2 linked regions of the Homo sapiens genome follow. The protein of the gene in region 2 purifies or fractionates together with the protein of the main gene of each other region. This does not show direct contact. Each region holds a gene or a part of one and is shown on either strand. Other genes may lie near its edges.

What was found.
Region 1: the proteins of CCDC9 (region 2) and NCBP3 purify together in Homo sapiens (co-immunoprecipitation; 2 studies listed by BioGRID and IntAct, with this or other methods). This does not show direct contact.

What each region holds. Positions count from the first base shown.
Region 1 is NC_000017.11:3,808,244-3,815,267, reverse strand, and holds part of NCBP3 (nuclear cap-binding protein subunit 3), read left to right. Parts: intron 1-784; coding exon 785-946; intron 947-1,988; coding exon 1,989-2,224; 3' UTR 2,225-2,613; coding exon of another isoform or gene 2,614-2,722; 3' UTR 2,723-7,024. UniProt on the Homo sapiens protein: Associates with NCBP1/CBP80 to form an alternative cap-binding complex (CBC) which plays a key role in mRNA export. NCBP3 serves as adapter protein linking the capped RNAs (m7GpppG-capped RNA) to NCBP1/CBP80.
Region 2 is NC_000019.10:47,251,642-47,259,546, forward strand, and holds the start of CCDC9 (coiled-coil domain-containing protein 9), read left to right. Parts: upstream 1-4,883; 5' UTR 4,884-4,968; intron 4,969-5,855; exon of another isoform or gene 5,856-6,268; intron 6,269-6,688; 5' UTR 6,689-6,759; coding exon 6,760-6,762; intron 6,763-6,917; coding exon 6,918-7,022; exon of another isoform or gene 7,023-7,069; intron 7,070-7,905. UniProt on the Homo sapiens protein: Probable component of the exon junction complex (EJC), a multiprotein complex that associates immediately upstream of the exon-exon junction on mRNAs and serves as a positional landmark for the intron exon structure of genes and directs post-transcriptional processes in the cytoplasm such as mRNA export, nonsense-mediated mRNA decay (NMD) or translation.

The DNA of each region.
Region 1 (7,024 bases), on a different chromosome or scaffold from region 2:
TACATGAGAAGTAACCTGATCTTACATCTATTTTAGAAAGACAACTTGAGGGTGGAGTGGGGTGGGGTAGAGAGTTAAAAAAGTAACAAGAGCCTGAACTAGGTCGGTGGAGACAGAATGGATAAAGAACAGGATAGTCTTGTGAAGGAAGACTCAGTGCTAGGAAGTGTTGGAGGAAAGGAGCTCAGGTCTCAGTGACCAGAGACCAGGGTGCTGCTCTCTGAGAGAAGCTAAAGTGAGAGGAGACCTCGGCACAGGGCCTCACCAACGAATGTGTTTCTGTTGTTGCTGTGGTGGTTAGGGGGAACTCAAGAGGACAGGCCGATTTCTGGGGGGATTGAGGGAAAAACACATTTGATCCTTTGCCTTTTCCAGTCTCTTTATATTTACTGGTTAAATGTAATAAGTTTATTGGGAACTACTTGTATGTTCAAAGATTGTGCCTTCCACTTTCCAGGAGCTCACAGGATTTTTTGTTCGCTGAAACTTTTGTAAATTACTTAGTCTTCTTGATTCTGCTTAAAGAAAAAAAAAAAAAGGTTGTTTCTTCAGAAATATAGTTCTGGAGTAATCAGTTGAGGATTTTTCCTCTGACAGCCCCTATGTCCGAATTTTCCTAAGGAAATCCAGACTGATTACAAAGGAAGAATACTTAGCAGCCTGATTGTCAGGCCCTGTGTCCTCGGGGCAGGGGTTAGCGCCAGATCCGTTAGAGGTGTCAGGCGGCTGGTGCCGAGCATAAAGCACACACACGGTCACTGGTGCACTTTTTCTCTTTTTTCAGATATACGCCAGCGGTTAGGAAAAAGACCACATTCTCCGGAAAAGGCTTTTAGTAGTAACCCCGTCGTTCGGAGAGAGCCCTCTTCTGATGTGCATAGTAGGCTAGGTGTTCCCAGGCAGGATAGTAAAGGCCTCTACGCCGATACTCGGGAGAAGAAATCAGGTTGGTAACACTTAAAACGGATGGGAATGGGGATTCAGTGAGAGCAGAGGACAGTGGGTGTATTGGAGAAATACTTTCTTAGCAGAAGGCAAGAAACAGCCCACGCCAAATATAAGTGATTATTCCTTTTCCATTATAGTTATCGTCAGCATCAGCATCAGCATCATCCCAACAGTTAGGAACGCTTAGAAAATAGAAAAAAATAGCACACTCCTGGCTCTTTCTGTTTGGCACAAATCTTTTTAGTTTCATGTGAGCTATTCTGGTCTTTGCCCACATACAAATCCTAGTTTTTTCATACAGCATTTTATCGTAGTTGTTTGCCACATTTTATAATCTTTATAAATAAAACTTTTAGGCCAGGCATAGCGGCTCAACACCTGTAATCCCAGCAATTTGGGAGGCCGAGACGGGGGGATCACTTGAGGTCAGGAGTTCGAGACCAGCCTAACCAACATGGTGAAACCCTGTCTCTACTAAAAACACAAAAATGAGCCGGGCGTGGTGGTGGGCGCCTGCACCACTGCACTTCAGCCTGGGCAACAGCAAGACCTTGTCTCAAAAACAAAAACAAAAACAACTTTGAATTGCCTTATAATGTGGCCGTCTACAAAATTCTAAACACGTATTTCTCTATTGTTAAATTTTCATAAAATATATTTCAAAAATTAATGGAAGGGATCTGGGAGTGGCCTACTTCTGGCAGAATGGATTGGCACACAGGGTGGTGTCTCAGCAGGGAAGGGCAGGAGTAGGAGGAAACGGCCTCTCAGGTGATTCTGATGTGTCTGGTGACAGGGAGGGACCTGACCTGTCCCCCCACGGTGAGAATCCCGTGCTGGGTCCAGACCCTTCCGTTTGCGGGCAGGGGCTGCGGCCCGGGAAATGAGATTTTGCCTGCCCAAGGCTGCACTGTGGTGGCAGGCTCCACAGACTGCTGGCGTTTCCTGCACAGCAGGTGTTGGCAGTGCTGCTGCCCCCTCAGTGCTACCCTGGTTCTTAGCGCTGACTGCGAAAGTGAAATGCCATCTCATCCAAACAGGTAATTTATGGACTCGCCTAGGATCTGCACCCAAGACCAAAGAAAAGAATACGAAGAAAGTGGATCACAGGGCGCCTGGCGCTGAGGAAGACGACTCTGAGCTGCAAAGGGCATGGGGGGCTCTGATTAAGGAGAAAGAGCAGTCTCGCCAAAAGAAGAGCCGGTTAGATAACTTACCATCTCTCCAGATTGAAGTTAGTCGGGAAAGCAGCTCTGGTTCAGAGGCAGAGTCCTGATGCCCCTGGGGCCTATGGCAGCTGCCCTAAAGCCTGACATTCTTGCACAGGGTGGGGCGCGCAGTAGGAACCTCCCCCGCAGGAGCTGGCGCCCTCTCGCTCCTGCTCACACAGTCACCCTCCGCTCTTGCTACTTCGGCAAGACATCTTAAGAATGTGACACATTTTCAAGGGCATCTCTATCTTTCGCTGCAGAGTTGTAGTTCTGGGCCCTCGATTCCTTTCCCACCACCCCACAGGCTTTACCCTTTGAGAAAAAGGCAGCCCTCCAGATTTTGTAGACATTTTTCTTAATATTTTTAACATTGTGTCTTTTAAAAGAAATGTTTTACACAGTTCATCCAAAGAGCAGAGAACTGAACTTCTCACTATTGCCTTGGCCCTGACAGCTGTTACCAGCACCCTTTTCCCAAGAAAAGTCAATTCCCAGGTGCTTATTGGACATCCTTCGAGGGGGAAGAGGAGGGAAGCGGCCAGCTCACCCTTCCGGGACCCTAGTGTGGGGCGAATCTCACGGACCTGACCTCAGAGGTGCACCAGTGCCGCCCAGGTAGATAAGAGCTGCAGCATTGACTGTGCTTCCGTTCTTCCCTCGGGGATTGCTCATGGCATGGGCCTCTTACGTGCTGTCAGCTTGATGTGAAGATCAAGTTCAGTGCTGTGGGATTTTTAGGAACAAAAAACTGTGACGTCTGGATTTGGGGTTGATTTTTGTGCTGGGGTGGGATTATGGGTCAATGTTGAAGAATTTTTAAGTCTGTATTATGTTTAAAACATGAATGATTTGAAAGTTTAAATTTTTAATTTTTATATGTGGAAATTCTTCCTGTTGGCTAAAGGGGAAGCTCAAGTGGTGTCGTCTTTTGTGCTGTTAAATATATATTCTATTCTTTGGAAGAAGGCAGAGAGAGGAGTCTTATTATTTTTAAATGCTCCTAGTTGTATAGTCTGTCTGTTGTACATAGAGTTCAGCTTGTTTTTTGGCTCCAGTAGGAAAAAAAATCCATCCATCTGAGATGGGGTCCTGTTGTTTATTATCACTCTAGAAGTTATACATTGATATTTATTCTTTCTGTCCCCACGTTGTGGCACCTGAAGACATCTTCAAAATTGGCAGAAAAGATAATAGTTATAAAAATTTTAGTTCATTTATTTTTAAACTCCTTTCAGATTATTTTACCATTAGGAGGAGGTAGATTGTTTCGTCTTCCTGTCTGATTTTTGTTTTGTAGTATTTAATTTTGTATTCCTCTGCAGTTTTAAGAAACAGTGTTTTTCTTCGGTTTGCTGGAACATGGGCGTTAGAGATGGTAATAAACCGTGGTCCTTTTTGCGATGTCACGACTCTTCACCTGCCTGGGCTGTTGTGCACACAGTGCAGCCTGGATCCTGTCGATCTTTACTTGTGGCGGAGCTAATGGTCACATTGATAGTTGATTACACTGTGGCACGAATTAATGCAGAACACTGTTATTAATAAAGGAAGTAAAGGGCTGCAAGATTTGAGAGCTGCAACAAAAACTGTATTGTCCCATATTTTGTTGATTAACCTTGCTTTTTCTCCCTCCCTTTAGAGAGATTAGAGGATATAACCATGATATATTTCAGCTTCTTATTAGGATTCTAGGAAAGAGATGGTTCTGGTTTCTCTGCCAGTTGAGACTTAAGACATCTGAGATTTCTCAGCTTTTCTTTCCCTGTGAAGCATACAGCTGAGAGCCAGGTTCTTAGGAAGGGTCAGGGTTTGGGGAGTTGGTAGAGTGAGGAGTGCGGGGGCCTGAGAATCGGACACCTGGATGCCAACCCCTGGCTCTGCTCCATGGACCTGGGCCTCAGTTTTCCCGTCTAGCAGTTGAGTGGGCTGTTACCAGAATTCCTGGCTTTGTTGGTGCATCTCAGTGGCGGTTTACTCTTCCCAAGCTGTGACGGCAGTGGGCTCGCCAGCATGAATTTCTACTGCAGGTGGAGGAGGCGCCAGGGAGACAACTGAGGGCGCGCATGAGGTGTAGACAGGGGCTTATTCCCATCCCAGCACAGTCTCTGCTTCTACTGACGGGGCAAAGATGTCTTGTGGTCAGCGTCCCAGCTGGCATGCCTCTGCAGGGTTTAGAATATGCTCCTTCACAGACTTTCCTTTTGGTTTTACACCAGCAGCTCAGGTCCATTTGTTCCACGGCCTTTCAGCACTCAGCAGTCTCCTGCTACAGATCAGCGAAGCCATTCTGGAAGGAGGTGGTGTGCAGTCAAAACTGGGTCTTTGATGTAACCAAGAGAAATACACACTCGAGTAACCTTACAGTTTTCACAGACACACAGAGAGAACCCAGAAAGGCAGCTTTAAAGATTTTTACTTCTCGGAGTTACTGGCCTTATTAGTTTCTCTAACCCTCCTGCCCACTCTCAGTCACTCAGATCTTGCAACATCTTGAGTGTGTCCTGAATGATGAGGCCTTTTCTTTGGAGTTTAAGAGTAAGAATGGATAGTCAGGACAGGCCCGTGGCAGGCAGCTGGGCGTGATTTTACCCTGGACACTCCCCACACATGTGGGCACAGGGCTGCACACTTTGTGTGTTCCTCTTAGTCTTATGTGTAGGAGATTTTACATACATGTTTGCTGCTTGATGATAATTGCAGATACCTCATTTGTTTCCCACTCTCCTCTCTGGAGAGTTACCAGGTACCCAGGATAATTTGTGGCGTCCTCAGGATGTAGTCTCCTCCTCTGGCCCCCTTGTAGTCTGATCCTGTGAACCCCTCTCCGTTCTTCAGCCACTGCCCTTTCCAGCTGCATTTGTACAGCAGCCTCTTCACTGGTCTCTGCCCTGTCTCCATTCTGCACACTGCAGCGGGATGAACCTTTGTTGTTGTTACCAGCTTAATTTAGATGTAATTTGCATACAGTTCAGCCATTTAAAGTGTACACTTGAGTGGCTTTTAGTATATTTACAGTTATGCACCAGCACCGTAATCAATTTTAAAACACTTTGATCACCCAAAGAAACCCTGAGTCCATTAGCAATTCTCCCTATTCCCTCTTCCCTCTTAGCCTCTGGCCACCACTGATCTTCCTTCTCTCTCTGTGGATTTGCCTGTTCTGGATAGTTCATATAAATGGGATCATATACTATGTGTCTATTTGTGACTGGCTTCTTAACATATTTCTGAGGTTCATCCATGTCATAGCTTCTATCAGTATTTCATTTTTTAAAATTGCCAAATAATAGTCCATTTTATGGGTATGCCACCTTTTTTTTAATCCACATTGGTTAATGGGCATTTGAGTTGTTTCTACTTTAGGGCTATATATATATATTTCTATTTCTATTATTTATTTTTGAGACACAGTTTCGCTCTTGTTGTGCAGGCTGGAGTGCAATGGCACGATCTCGGCCCACTGCAACCTCCACCTCCGGGGTTCAAGCGATTCTCCTGCCTCAGCCTCCAGAGTAGCTGGGATTACAGGCATGTGCCACCACGCTGGCTAATTTTTTGTATTTTTAGTAGAGACAGGGTTTCACCATGTTGGTCAGGCTGGTCTCGAACTCCTGACCTCAGGTGATCTGCCCACCTCTTCCTCCCAAAGTTCTGGGATTACAGGTGTGAGCCACTGCACCTGGCCCTACTTTTTGGCTATTATGAATAGTGTTGCTACGAACATTCCCGAACAAGTTTTTGCAGGGACAGGTATTTTCATGACTCTTGGGTATATACCTAGGAGTGGAATTGCTGAGTCATAATTATCTTTAACCTTTTCAGGAACCACCAGGTGGTTTTTCCAAGCAGCTGTATCATTTTCCATTCCACCAGCAGTGTGCGAGGGTTCCAGTTTCTCCACATCTCCACCAACACTCATTATTTTCTGGTGTGAAGTGGTATCTCATTGTAGTTTTTTGTTTTTATTTTTTCTTTTTAAAATACATTTTGTACAGATGGGGTTTCGTTATGTTGCCCAGGCCGTCTAGCACTCCTGGCCTCAAGTGATCCTCCTGCCTTGACCTCCCAAAGTGCCGAGATTACAGGCATGAGCCACCACGCCTGGCTCTCATTGTGGTTTTGATTTGTATTTCCCTAATGACTAATGATGTCGGGCACCTTTTCACATGCTTCAGGATGAACTTTCTTAAATATATATCTGATTCTGTTATTCCTCTGCTTGAACGTTTTCCAAAGCTTCACTATTGCCCCGAGAATAAATTCCACACTCCTGATCGCATGAGCCCAGTAATTCAAGGCTGTGGTGAGCTATGATCAAGCCACTGCACTCCAGCCTGGGCAGCAGAGCAAGACCTGTCTCAAAAAATACATACATACATAAATTCCACCCTTTTTGATAGCATGTTATGAGGCTCACCAAGGTCTATCCTCTGGCAGTATCCCTGGCCTGTTCTCCCCATCTCCCCTGCCCTCTGCTCACCAGTTCCCTAAATGTATCTTGATCTCACTAGCCCTACAGACTGTGCACAGAGCTGTTTCTACCTCCAGTGACATGCTTCCGCCCAGGCTTCTCCCCCTCCCGCCTCAATCTTCCCCTCACCAACTTAAGGTCTTAGGGGCCCTTCTAGGAGGCAGTCCCCAACTTCCAGAGCCAGGGTATAGGCTACTTCTATGTGTCCCATGGTACTGCCACAGAAGAGTCTCAGCTCTCTCCAGGATTCAGTTCTAAGGTCAGTGCCTAAGATAAAAATGGAGTGTAATTAAAATTCCTCTTAGAAATCTAAGGAAGGTGCCCTATTGAAGACCAACATCTTGAGGTCCCATGTAGTCATTTCTTGCCCATGTGGGAACACATTACTGTTTGG
Region 2 (7,905 bases):
ATTTTTTTTTGTTTTTTGTTTTTTGTTTTTGAGACAGTCTCACTCTGTCGTCGAGGCTGGAGTGCAGTAGCACTGTGTTGGCTCACTGCAACCTCCGTCTCCTGGGTTCAAGCAATTCTCCTGCCTCAGCCTCCCAAGCAGCTGGGACTACAGGCGTCCACCATGACGCCCGGATAGATTTTTCTTTTTTTTTTTTTTCTTGAGACGGAGTCTGGCTCTGTTGCCCAGGCTGGAGTGCAGTGGCGTGATTTCAGCTCACTGCAAGCTCCACCTCCTGGGTTCACGCCATTTTCCTGCCTCAGCCTCCCTGGTAGCTGGGACTACAGGTGCCCGCCACCATGCCCGGCTAATTTTTTTTACATTTTTAGCAGAGATGGGGTTTCACCATGTTGGCCAGGCTGGTCATGAACTCCTGACCTCAGGTGATCCACCCACCTCAGCCTCCCAAAGTGCCGTGATTACAGGTGTGAGCCACCGTGCCTGGCCACGCCTGGCTAATTTTGTGTGTGTGTGTGTGTACTTATTTTTTTGAGACAGTGTGTCGCTCTGTCACCCAGGCTAAAGTGCAGTGGCGGGATCTCAGCTCACTGCAACCTCTGCCTCCCAAATTCAAGCAATTCTTCTGCCTCAGCCTCCTGAGTAGCTGGGACTACAGGCGTGCACTGACACTCTTGGATAATTTTTTTTTTTTTGAGGTGGAGTCTTGCTCTGTCCCTCAGGCTGGATTGCAATGACGCGATCTCGGCTCACTGAAGCCTCCGCCTCCCGGGTTTAAACGACTCTCCTGCTTCAGCCTCCCAAGTAGCTGGGATTACAGGTGCACACCACCACACCTGGCTAATTTCTTTTTGCATGTGTGTAGTTTTAGTAGAGACGGGATTTCACCATGTTGGCCAGGCTGGTCTCGAACTCCTGACCTCAGATGATCCTCCTGCCTTGGCCTCCCAAAGTCCTGGGATTACAGACATGAGCCACCACGCCCAGCCGAGGCTGAGTCTTTATCTTGGGGACTGGCCTGGGCATTGGAAGGTGTTCAGGAGCAGCCCTGGCCTCTGTCCACTAGATGTCAAGAGGACCCTCTCTTGTGACAACCAGAAATGTCCCTAGTCATTGAGAAATGTCCTTTAGGGGGCAAAATTACCTCCATTGAGAACCACTGGATAAGAACACGGAGTTTGAGGATGCACAAAAGGGAGTGATGTGGCTGGAGAGGGCAGCAGCGGTGACACACACACCACTCAGGCTCCATCAAGTCAGCTCTCCCCAGGGTGCTCTGGGCAGCCTCTTTCTGTCAGAACAGTTGCCATAGTTTGAATGTGTCCGTCGAAGTTCATGTGTTGAAAACAGTCGGCAGGGCGCGGTAGCTCACGCCTGTAATCCCAGCACTTTGGAAGGCCGAGGCAGGTGGATCACGAGGTCAGGAGTTCAAGACCAGCCTGGTCAAAACGGTGAAACCCTGTCTCTACTAAAAATACAAAAAAAAGTAGCCAGACATGGTGGCAGATGCCTGTAATCCCAGCTACTCAGGAGGCTGAGGCAGCGAATTGCTTCAACCTGGGAGGCGGAGGTTGCAGTGAGGCGAGATTGCGCCATCGCACTCCAGCCTGGGCAAAAAGAGCAAAACCTGTCTTAGAAAAACAAACAAACAAACAAAATATATATATATATTTATACAAACACATACACACACATATATGGAGAGAGAGAGAGGTGGGGGTCCCACTATGTTGGCCAGGCTGACCTTGAGTGAGCTCCTGGCCTTAAATGATCCTCCCACCTCTGCCTCCCAAAGTGTTGGAATTACAGGCATGAGCCACTGTATTTGGCCTAATTTTTAATTTTTTTTGTGGAGACTAGGTCTCACTCTATTGCCCAGACTGGTTTCAAATTCCCGAGCTGAAGTGATCTGCCCACCTTGGCCTCCCAAAGTTCTGGGATTACAGGCATGAGTCACCGCACTGGCCTCAAGTGAATTTCGTTACATGCATAGATTGCTATTTGGACAATTATAAGAGGATTAAGTTTCATTGGTATCTCTGAAAGGCTGTGAACAGTAGCCTTAGAAATGGTAAGGAATTACCAGGTACTTCCACTTTCTATGTCTTAAATCACAAAATAAAATGACTGGCACTACAGGCAATCTGGTCTGTCCACTTATAACTGTCATTCACCTTAACTGAGGGTATTCTGTAGCATTCATCATCATTTGTCACAATACCTTTATTATTTATTTATTTATTCTGAGACAGAGTTTCACTCTTGTTGCCCAGGCTGGAGTGCAGTGGCTCAATCTTGGCTCACTGCAACCTCCATTTCCCAGGTTCAAGTGATTCTCCTGCCTCAGCCTCCCCAGTAGCAGGGGTTACAGGCGTGAGCCACAGCGCCTGGTCGGCTTGTCACACTAGCTTTATTATGTCTAAGTTTTGGTTAATGCTGTAACCTCCTGGACTCTGCAGCTATTCAGCTGCTGTTGCTTTGAGTATCTTCTAGTTTTGGGAATGCACCAAGCTCATTCACCACAGGGCCTTTGCATAGGTTGTGTCCTTGGCCTGCACAGGCAGCCTCTCACCCTCCGGCCTCTCCTGCCCCTCTTGCCAGGCATCTCCCACAGGTGCTGCTATTTCCCATTTACTTGTGTCTTCCCTTAGGAGGACAAGGATGGGGTCAGCTTTGTTCATCATCTCAGTTCCCCCACCAACTTTTCCTCCCAGCACGCAGCCTGGCAGTCAATGCTGATTTGGGAGAATGAACGACTGATTCTATCGGTTGAACGTTTATTTTATATATATATATATATATATATATATATATATATATATATATATATACTTTTTTTTTTTTTTTTTTTTTGAGACGGAGTCTCGCTCTGTCGCCCAGGCTGGAGTGCAGTGGCGTGATCTCGGCTCACTGCAAGCTCCGCCTCCCGGGTTCACGCCATTCTCCTGCCTCAGCCTCCCAAGTAGCTGGGACTACAGGCGCCCGCCACTACGCCCGGCTAATTTTTTGTATTTTTAGTAGAGACGGGGTTTCACCGTTTTAGCCGGGATGGTCTCGATCTCCTGACCTCGTGATCCGCCCGCCTCGGCCTCCCAAAGTGCTGGGATTACAGGCGTGAGCCACCGCGCCCGGCCTTATTTTATATTTTATGATTTCATTTACTTATTTATTTTCGATACGGAGTCTCACTTTGTCGCCCAGGCTGGAGTGCAGTGGCACGATCTTGCCTCACTGCAACCTCTGCCTCCCGGGTTCAAGCAATTCTCTATCTCAGCCTCCCAAGTAGCTGGGATTACAGGCATCTGCCACCATGCTTGGCTAAATTTTGTATTTTTAGTAAAGACGGGGTTTCACCATGTTAGCCAGGCTGGTCTCGAACTCCTGACCTTGTGATCCACCTGCCTCGGCCTCCCAAAGTGCTGGGATTACAGGCATGAGCCACTGCGCCTGGCCAGTTATTTATTTTTTTGAGACGTAGTCTTGCTCTGTCGCCCAGGCTGGAGTGCAATGGCACGATCTCAGCTCACTGCAACCTCTGCCTCCCGGGTTTAAGCGATTCTCCTGCTTCAGCCTGTAGCTGGGATTACAGGTGTTACAGGTGCCCGCCACCATGCCTGGCTAATTTTTGTATTTTTTAGTAGAGACAGGGTTTCACCACGTTGGTCAGGCTGGTCTCAAACTCCTGACCTCGGGTGATCCACCCGCCTCGGACTCCCAAAGTGCTGGGATTACAGGCGTGAGCCACGGCGCCCGGCCTATTTTATTTTGAGACGGAGTCTCTCGTTCTGTCGCCCAGGCTGCAGTGCAGTGGTGCAATCTCGGCTTACTGCAACCTCTGCCTCCCGGGTTCAAGCGATGCTCCTGCCTCAGCCTCCCAAGTAGCTGGGATTACAGGCGCCCGCCACCATGCCTGGCTAATTTTTGTATATGTATATTTTTTGAGACGGAGTCTCCCTGTGTCGCCCAGGCTAGAGTGCAGTGGAGCGATCTCGGCTCACTGCAAGCTCCGCCCCCGGGGTTCACGCCATTCTCCTGGCTCAGTCTCCGGAGTAGCTCGGACTACAGGCGCCCGCCACCACGCCGGGCTGATTTTTTTTGTATTTTTAGTAGAGACGGGGTTTCACCATGTTGGCAAGGATGGTCTCGAATTCCTGGCCTCAAGTGATCCGCCCTCCTCGGCCTCCCAAAGTGCTGGGATTACAAGCGTGAGCCACTGCGCCCAGCATTTTATTTTATTTTCGAGAAGGGGTCTGCTCTGTCGTCTAGGCTGCAGTGCGGTGGCATGATCTCGGCTCACTGCAACCTCTGCCTCCCCGGTTCAAGCGATTCTCCTGCTTCAGCCTCCCGAGTTGCTGGGATTACAGGCGCGCGCCACCACAACCGGCTAATTTTTTTTGTAGAGACGGGATTTCACAATGTTGGCCAGACTGATCTCGAACTTCTGACCTCAGGTGATCCGCCCGCCTCGGCCTCCCAAGGTGCTGGGATTACAAGTGTGAGCCACCGCCCACGGCCGGTAGAACATCTGAAGCTTCTAAAGCGAACTCTAAGGTTTCATTGGCACGAGGGGGCTCGAACCACGCCAGGCTTCCAGGCGTCAGTGCCCAGTGCTTGGCATCTACTGATAGAAACCAGGAATGAGGGGCTGGAGGCGGAAACAGCTTGAAGAAAGAGGTAGAGGCCAGGGAGTGAGGACGGTGTCTCCTTTTCCTGGAAGTTGGTAATTCAGGCAGAAGGAAGTTGGATGAGCTTGCGGAACACCCGGGGGGCCAGTCGGCCCCGCTCCCGCATCCATCGCGGAGGCGCGGCCCCTTTAAGGCTCCCGGAAACGGTCCCACAGGACCGGAAGTGACCCTCTTTATTTCCCTTCCTCACGTGGTGCAGGCAGGAAGTGACGCGCCTGGCCCGGGAGCTGCGGTCGCAGAGGCCGACGGAGCCGGAGTCGCGGACGCCGCGGGGTCTCCGGGACAGGTGACCTGGGGGAGGGGGCCGGGAGCGCGCCCAGAGAAGGCGGGGCCTGAAGCCCCACGTGGCGGGGAGTGCGAACAGGCCCGGGCGGGGTCGGAGTTCTCTGCGGGGGGCGGGGACAGGACGCCCACATGGGAAGCTGGAGGGGCGCTGGCGGGGCGGGCCGTTGGGTGGGTGGGCAGGGTCGGGGCGGGGCGTGGCCAGAGCCTGGGCCGGCGGCTGTGGGCGGGACCTAAAAGTTGTGGCTGGACTGTGGGCGGGGCCATAGTGTTGCTTGTTCAGCTGTGTGGCGGGGCTCGGACGCCGGGCGGAAGCTCTGTGGGCGGGGCCAGAAAGTTTTGCCTTACTGGAAGTGGGTCCAGATTCTTGGCCGGGACGTTGGGGGCGGACCCAGAGGCTGACGCAATGGCGGGGGCGGGGCCACAATGTAGTGGGGGAGCCAGGGGGCGGGGCCAGGGTGCTGGCGGGGAATGCTGGGGGTGGAGCCAGAAAGTTTCGTCTGAGCCACGGGCGCGGCCAGAGCGTTGGCCGGGAGGCGGGGAAGCGGGGAGTTGAGCCAGAACCCTGGGGAAGCCATGGGCGGGGCCAGATGCTGACGCAACGAGGTGTGGGAGGGAGTCAGGGGGCGTGTCCAGGAGGTTGGCCAGGCCAATCGGAGGCGGGGCCAGAGGGTTGACTGGGCAGGCCGGGGGCGGGGCTGGAATAATAATAAGAGATGGTAGGGGCGGGTGTAGGCTGTTGCCTGCGAGCCAGGAGGCGGGGAAAGAGCGTGGCTGGGAAAGTCGGGAGCGGGGCCACATTAATGGCCCATGGGTGGGGGCGGGGCCAGAAGTCTGGCGGGAAAGGCGGGGCCAGAAAGTTTTTTCCCGAGCCGTGGGCGGGGCCAGAGCGGTTTCCAGGATGTCGGGGACGTGGCCCTGGCATTCCCAGCCGGATTGAGGCTGGAGCTTTGCACAGAAAATCTGGGGCGGGCCTGGGTAGTTTTGTCCTTGTTGGGGCGGGTGGAGTATTCAGTGGGGCAAAACGCCAGTTCCAGGAAGCCTCGCCAGTGAGTTCTGGGCCTGTGTACAGAATCCTTTCGGGGGAGGCGGGAGGCTGTCGACCTTCCGTAGGGCGCTGGAGACGGGACTAGGACGTCCCTGAGGAAGGCGCGGGCTTGGAATGTTCTCTGAGAGCTTGGGCAGCCAATAAGAGTGGGGTTCGGACTTTCTTTGAGCGTGGGATTGGGAATGTTTCTGAACCTTACCTGGTGGAGCTAGAATATTCGCCTGGATATGAGAGGCACCAGGATGAGCACAGGGAGGTGGGTCTGGAACTTTCTTTTGCAGGCTGGTTGGAGGGGTTGTAGTTGGAACTCTCTTGAGATAGGGAACCCGGGCTAACACTCATACCACAGGGTGTGGCGGCTGGCCTAGAATCAGCCTTTGGAGGAGAGCAGTGTTGGATACTTAAGCAGTGGGTGGGGGCCAGAACATCCCCAAGGTGGGTTTGACTAGATCGTTTACATGGGAACTGGGTGAGTCCACAAAGATCATGAAAGGGCTGAGTCTGAATTTCTATGGAGAAGATGGAGGTGGCAGTTGAAAGGAGGGAGAGTGAGGGCTACAATTCTCTTGGGGTACAGGGTTTTTTGTGTATGGCTGTGAGGATCCCGCAGTATGTTAGAGGGTGAAGTAGGTTGGGGGGCCATTGGCCTTTGTCCTTTTTTTCCCTCTGTCCCCAGGAACCCTCAGTGCTGCGTCTAGATTCTGCAGGGGAGGTTTGCTGGGACCTTGGCTCCACGCAGCCAGCGAAATGGTGAGGCTGAAAAATGGGGTCTCTAGAATCTGAGTTTTGGGGAAGGGGGCTTGGGAGGATGGGATCCATAGGGGCAGACTCTCAGACCCTGGGGGAAAGTCCCTGGTATGGATGGAGGTTTTTCCTTCCATCCCTCAACTGCCTCCCGGTCTCAGGCAGCCACACTCGATTTGAAATCAAAGGAGGAGAAGGATGCTGAGTTGGACAAGAGGATCGAGGCTCTTCGGCGGAAGAATGAGGCCCTCATCCGGCGCTACCAGGTGCCCTAGCCCCGCCCTGGGAGACCCCATCCCCTCTCTTCCCCGCAGTGAGTTTTTCTCACCTCTCCCTTCCTTAAAACCTTTTCATGGCTCCCCATCACTGTCAGGATAAAGGCCAAAGGCCTTAGCCTGACATCCCTTCTTTCATTCCATTATTCATTCATTCATTCATTTGTTCACAAATATTCCCCAAGATCTTTACCAGCCCCAGTGCTGAGTGGTGCTGGGGATATAGCTGTGACTGAGACAGACCCAGGCCTGCCCCCTCCAGGGTCCACCGTCTAGTCAGGGAGACAGCCCTGTCCTCAGGGATGCCCCAGAGCAGACAAGTCTGGAATCAGGAAATTCAGGGGTCTGTGGGAGTCCAGAGGAGGCTCTTGACCCAGCCTTGGGGATATCAGGGAGGGCTTCCTGGAGGAGTGGACTCTGAGGCTTGAGTGGTGAGTAGACAATAGCCAGTTGAAAAGGCGAGGGGAACATGTTTCAGGCAGAAAGAACAGTTTGTGCAAATGTTGGAAGCAAGAGAGAGCTTGGAGCTTCAAGTTGGAGGGTTGGTTAGGAGAGAATTGACCTGGGCAGGTCAGCAGGGGCCAGGCTGTGCTAGGCCCTGAATGCCACCAGGATGAGTTTGGACTTTGTCCTGAGGGCACTGGGGAGCCAGGGAGAGCCTTGAGCAGGGGTGGGACCGGTCAGAACAGCTCTTTAGGAAGACGCCTCTGGGTGCTGTGCGGTGGTGGGTGCGAGGAGGTGATACTGGAGCCCAGAGACCAAGGAGGAAGCTGGGGCTGGAACCCTAGTGGGAGAGGAGGTACCTGGCTCAGGGCAGGGCTGTTGAGAGGGACTCAGTTACTGATGGGCAGTTCAGGGCAGGGGGAGGAAGAGG